Linked DNA regions of Homo sapiens: region 1 is linked to region 2. The links come from fine-mapping of genetic effects on gene expression. A gene starts in region 2. The other region holds a variant in brackets. All regions are shown on one strand. Distances are from middle to middle.

Region 1 (2,916 bases), 74 kb before region 2:
GCTAACTTTTGTATTTTTAGTAGAGACGGGGTTTCACCATGTTGGCCAGGATGGTCTCGACTGCCTGACCTCGTGATCCATCCGCCTCAGCCTCCCAAAGTGCTGGGATTACAGGTGTGAGCCACCATGCCCGGCCTGTGTATCTTCTTTATGTTTACCCTACCAAGAGCAGACCTGAGCATTTTGCTGGCCGTAGAGGTATATAAAAGAACTCTAAGCTTAGGCATGCAGAATAGGCACTGGATGAATGTAGTGAGGCTATTAGGAGTCTTGTTGGCTCCCTGATGTCCTTATCATGTCTTCTTCGCAGACTGTGGATGCACACAAGACAGCTAAAACCTTGGGCATCATTTGAAAATGTTTGGCTGCCTGCTACAATCTCAGGAGAGAGAATCCTTCATACTTATATTGGACTGGATATATTGTCAATCAAATTCTTTTTTAAAAAAAGATGCTTCACTTTAGGAAATAAGACACCAGACCAGCAACATCAAGTAGGTATGGAATACTTGCTGGTGAAACACTTAAAACTAGGAAACTTCTAAATCTTCTAAAGGTGCTTAAGAGAATGGAGAAGTTAATCAACAGGAATCCAAGTGTTGTGGCTGTAAAGCAATACGACATAAGATCCCTAGTAAAGAGCAGGCCTAAGAGTTGGTTTTGGAAAGAACTTGGGCCAAGAACAGCAGAAAAAGCTAAATGAGCTACTTACGTCGATGTGTTTTAATACTGGTGCATTAGCAGTATCTTATGGAAGTTGTGAACACTAAGAACCAATTTCAAAAAATATAAAAATGTTTATAGGGCATATTAAAATAAAAACAGCTTAAATGAGTTCTATAAATAAAATAGGCCCAGCACAGTGACACACGCCTGTAACCCCAGCACTTTGGGAGGACAGGTGGGAGGATCGCTTGAGGCCAGGAGTTCAAGACCAGCCTGGGCAACAAAGCAAGACCCCATCTCTGTTCTTTTTAATATCAAAATTATAATAAAAAAGTAAAAATAAACGTACCTACTTAGAATACATATTAAATAAAGGAACTCCATGAGAAAATGTCACTGCATTTACCAAGTCAACCCTAGATTTTTGTGCAATGAAAAAGATTGGGACTATGTATTAACAATTTCATAAACAAATAATCAACAATTTTCTCTCCATTATTTCGATGTTGGGTAAAGCCTGAAATGTGGTGTCGAGTTTTTCCATTTGCGTTACATCAAATTCTTGTCTACTATGGATATTCTGATATGACAAAGACTAGTTAAACTCCTATTGAAAGATCTGCCATTTACTACACCCAAATAAGTTCTCTTAGGTATAAATTCTTTGATGTTGAATGAGCGTTGGGTTATGACTGAATCTCCTCACACACATACATGCTTATTACATTTATAATCTTTTTGCATGGCGTGAATTTGATACTAAACAAGGTAGTTTCTTTGACTGATGGCTTTTTCACATTCATTGCAGCAATGGAATTTTATTCCCATGTGAATTCTCCAAATGTGACTAAGGTATGAAAATACTAATAGCATGAAAAATTTGCCACATTCAATACATTT[G/A]TAAGATTTCTCACTGGTATAGATTTGCAGGAGTCGATTAAGAGTTTAACACTAATACCTTTTCTTCATTCGTCACATTCAGAGGGTTTCTCTCTGGTGTGAATTATCTGATGCTGAGCAATGGCTGAGCTATGACTGAAGGCTTTACCACATGCAGTACATACATGATTTCTCCCTGGTGTGAACTCTCAGATGCTGAATGAAGCCTGAATTTGATAAATATCTTCCCATCTTCATTACATTCATGAGTTCTCTTTGGTATGAATGCTCTGATGTTGAACTAGATGTGCTCTCTGACTGGAGTTCTTTTCCCATACATCACAATCAAAGGCTTTCTGTCTGGTGAGGACTTCTTGTTGCAGGATAAGATCTGAGCTATGACTGAAACTGCCCTCATACTCATTACATTCATACGATTTCTCTTTCCTATGCATTTTGTGATGCTGAATAAGGCATGAGGTTTGACTGAAAGCTTTTCCACATTCATTACATTCATGTGCTTTCTCTCCTGTGTGAATTCTTTGATGCTGAATAAGATGTGAATTCAATCTGAAGTCTTTTCCACATTCACTACACGTATAGGGCTTTTCTCTGAAATGAATTCCTTGTTGTTTAATATAGGCCAACCCATATTCATCATACTCATAGGCTTTCTCTTCATGATGGACCCTCTGATGTTCAAGTAGGTATGAAGTATGGCAGAAGTCACTGCCACATACAGTACACTTACAGGGCATCTCTTTGTGAATTTTCTGATGTTGAGTAAGGTGGACACTACGACTGAAGACTCTTTCACAACTGCTACATTTGTAAGATTTGGCTCTGGTGTGAATTTTCTTATGCTGAATTATGCCTGAGCTTGGACTACAGGATTTATCAGACGCTTCACAGGATTTATCAGATGCTTCACATTTGTAAGGTTTTTCTCTAGTGTGTATTCTTTTATGTCGACTAAGACTTGAGCTCTGACTGAAAGACTTTTCACATTCTTTACATTTGTAGGGCTTCTCTCTAGTATGGATTCTCTGATGTCTAGTAAGGGCTGAGCTCTGATGGAAAATTTTCCCACATACATCACATTTATAGGATTTCTCAGTGTTAGGGATGCTCTCCCATTTATTAAGGTGGGAGAGATCCATTAAGCTTTCCTTACATTCACTACTCTGAAAATCCTCTGTTAGATTTAAGTGTTCATGTTTACCAGAGGCTGAATTCTGGTTGAAGCTCATGTCATACTTATCATTGTCATCGGTATTCTGTATTCTAAGAACTCTCTGATCTGCATCAATAGTAGAGTCCAGACTGAAGCTTTTTTCGGGTTCATGACATTCATTGTTCTTCTCACTGGTG
Region 2 (2,916 bases):
ACCCAGGCTGGAGTGCACTGGTGCGATCATATCTCACTGCAGTCTTTACCTCCTGGGCTCAAAGGATCCTCCCACCTCAGCCTCCCAAGTAAGTGGTGTATCCTGAGTTGGTTCCTTCCAGTGGGTTCATCCTCTCGCTGACTTCAAGAATGCAGCCTCCGACCTTCACTGTGTTACAGCTCTTAAAGATGGCACGGACCCAAAGAGTGAGTAGCAGCAAGATTTATTGTGAAGAGCGAAAGAACAAACCTTCCACAGCATGGCAGAGCACTCCAGCCGGTTGCCTCCGCTGACTGGGGTGGGAGCTTTTAGTCTCTTATTTGTCCCCTCCCATGTCCGTTTCTGTCGTATCAGAACGCCCTTTTTTCCATCCTCCCTGCGATTGGCTGCTTTTAGAATCCTGCTGATTGGTCCATTTTACAGAGCGCTGATTGGTGCATTTTACAAACCTCTTGCTAGCTACAGAGCGCTGATTGGTGCATTTTTACAAACCTCTTGTAAGACAGAAAAGTTGTCCAAGTCCCCACTGGACCCAGGAAGTCCAACTAGCTTCACCTCTCACTGGGACTACAGGTGTGCACCACCACACCCAGCTAATTTTTTATTTTTTGTAGACATTGGGGTCTCCAATTCTTGGCTTCAAGCGATCTTCCCCCCTCAGCCTCCCAAAATGCTGGGATTACAGGCATACGCCACTGAGCCAGGCCAGGACACATCTTTGAGCCTCAATTTCCTCATCTTTTTTGTTTGTTTGTTAGGATCAAAGTCGTTAACATCTGATGTACATGGAAGCACTTAGTTTTAAAAAAAAAACAAAACTTTTTCCAACTGGGCGCAGCGGCTCACGCCTGTAATCCAGCACTTTGGGAGGCCGGGGCAGGCGGATCACGAGGTCAGGAGTTCCAGACCAGCCTGACCAACATGGTGAAACCCCATCTCTACTAAAATACAGAAAGTAGCCGGGCATGGTGGCGCGCGCCTGTAGTCCAAGCTACTCAGGAGGCTAAGACAGCCTGGCGACAGAGCGAGAGTCCGCCTGAAAAAAGAAAAAAAAACAACTTTGTCCAACCTGGGCAATATAATGAAACCCCATCCCCACAGAAAAATTAATAAACCGGGCGTGGTCGCGCGCACCTGTAGTCCTAGATACTTGGGAGGCTGAAGCTGGAGAATTGCTTGAACCCGGGAGACAGAAGTTGCAGTGAGCCGAAATCGCGCCACTGCAGTCCAGCCTGGGCGACAGAGCCAGACCCTGTCTATTTAATCCTGAAGGTTCCCGCCCTTGCCGGAGCTCGGCCACCGGCTCGGACGCCCGTATTTCCTCGGGATGCGGGAAACCGTCAAGACCCTCTGCGTCGGGCGGGGCTAGGACGATAAACCAGCGAGATGCACCTCACCCCATCAGGCGCCTAGAGAGGCCCCGGAAATGCAGGGAAAGGTGCCGCAAGGCCTCGATGACGCGCTTCCGGCACGGGATGTTTTCGGTTGTTTGACCGAGAGAGTTGTAGGCGCAAAGCTGAGGAAAGGAGAGTGTGGAGAGGGGCCTGGTGTGGTGGGGCCCGGTGTTTGGGACCGGAGGGTGTTGACGGCTGATGAGTTCCTTGGGTTTGCTCTTTCTTCACCTGAAAAGAAGACTCCAGGAAGGGCAGCACATGCCGGAGAAAGATGAATTCCAGCTTGACCGCCCAGAGGCGCGGCAGTGACGCCGAGTTGGGACCCTGGGTGATGGCTGCGAGGTCCAAGGACGCGGCGCCGTCCCAACGCGACGGACTTTTGCCCGTGAAAGTGGAGGAAGACTCACCCGGAAGTTGGGAGCCCAACTATCCCGCGGCTTCGCCGGACCCCGAAACTTCTCGACTGCACTTTAGGCAGCTGCGTTACCAGGAGGTGGCTGGACCGGAAGAGGCGCTGAGCCGGCTCCGAGAACTCTGTCGTCGGTGGCTGAGACCCGAGCTGCTCTCCAAGGAGCAGATCCTGGAGCTGCTGGTGCTGGAGCAGTTCCTCACCATCCTGCCCGAGGAGCTTCAAGCCTGGGTGCGAGAGCACTGCCCAGAGAGCGGGGAGGAGGCGGTGGCCGTGGTGCGGGCTCTGCAGCGAGCGCTCGATGGAACCTCATCCCAGGTGAGAAGCGAAAGGCCTGTTCTGGAGGTGGGAGTGTGGAAAATAGGCGTTTAGGGGTGCTCTGCGTTTCGGAACTTACTTCCTTATTACATTTCGTGTGAACATTGGGGTGTGTATGGACTTCCTTTCTGTAGGCCACAGTGACAGATCCATCCAGGAAATGACTTGTTATAGACCTCAGCATAAAGCGAACACGGATTACTGGTTTTCTTTCTTTTTCTTTTCTTTTTTTTTTTTTTCTTGTTGTTCTTGCTGTTGTTTGAGATGGAGTTTCACTCTTGTTGCCCAGGCTGGAGTGCAATGGCGCGATCTCGGCTCGCTGCAACCTCTGACTCCCGGGTTCAAGCGATTCTCCTGCCTCAGTCTCCCGAGTAGCTGGGATTACAGGCGCCCGCCACCACGCCCGGCTAATTTTTGTATTTTTAGTAGAGACGGGGTTTCACTGTGTTGGCCAGGCTGGTCTCGAACTCCTGACCTCAGGTGATCCGCCCGCCTCGGCCTCCCAAAATGCTGGGATTACAGGCGTGAGCCACCGCGCCCGGCCTTGTTTACTTTTAATCTGTATCATATTTCCATTCCCATACATCACAGTGATATAAGTTAAAGAAATATTTTGCTCCTACCTACCTCCAAAATTAGTGTAAATAGTCCACAGAAAGGCTTTTCAGGATTACAAGAGAATGTCAGCCTCTATCTCTGATCTCTCCAAACTCCCTTGTCGGTACAAGACTCAAGAAGAGTGTTAGTGCTGTACAGGGACAGCAGGTACTGAATGGGGCTCTTGTGTTGTTCCAG

Evidence for each region. PIP is the estimated chance that this variant, and not a neighbour inherited with it, causes the effect.
Region 1: its variant is fine-mapped to the expression of ZNF394 in whole blood (TOPMed, PIP above 0.99).

Annotation. Positions count from the first base shown.
Region 1 is chr7:99,572,477-99,575,392 of GRCh38, reverse strand. ZNF655 (zinc finger protein 655) reads right to left here. Exons shown (of 3, transcript NM_138494.3): 3 at 1-2,916. The coding sequence ends at 1,809. Among named protein-coding and RNA genes, the nearest start is that of ZNF655, 15 kb to the right of the region's middle. The variant G/A (reference allele first, on the strand shown) is at 1,567.
Region 2 is chr7:99,498,843-99,501,758 of GRCh38, reverse strand. It overlaps ZNF394 (zinc finger protein 394), which reads left to right and starts at 1,478. Exons shown (of 3, transcript NM_032164.4): 1 at 1,478-2,121. The coding sequence starts at 1,666. RefSeq lists enhancers at 1,868-2,147, 2,370-2,916.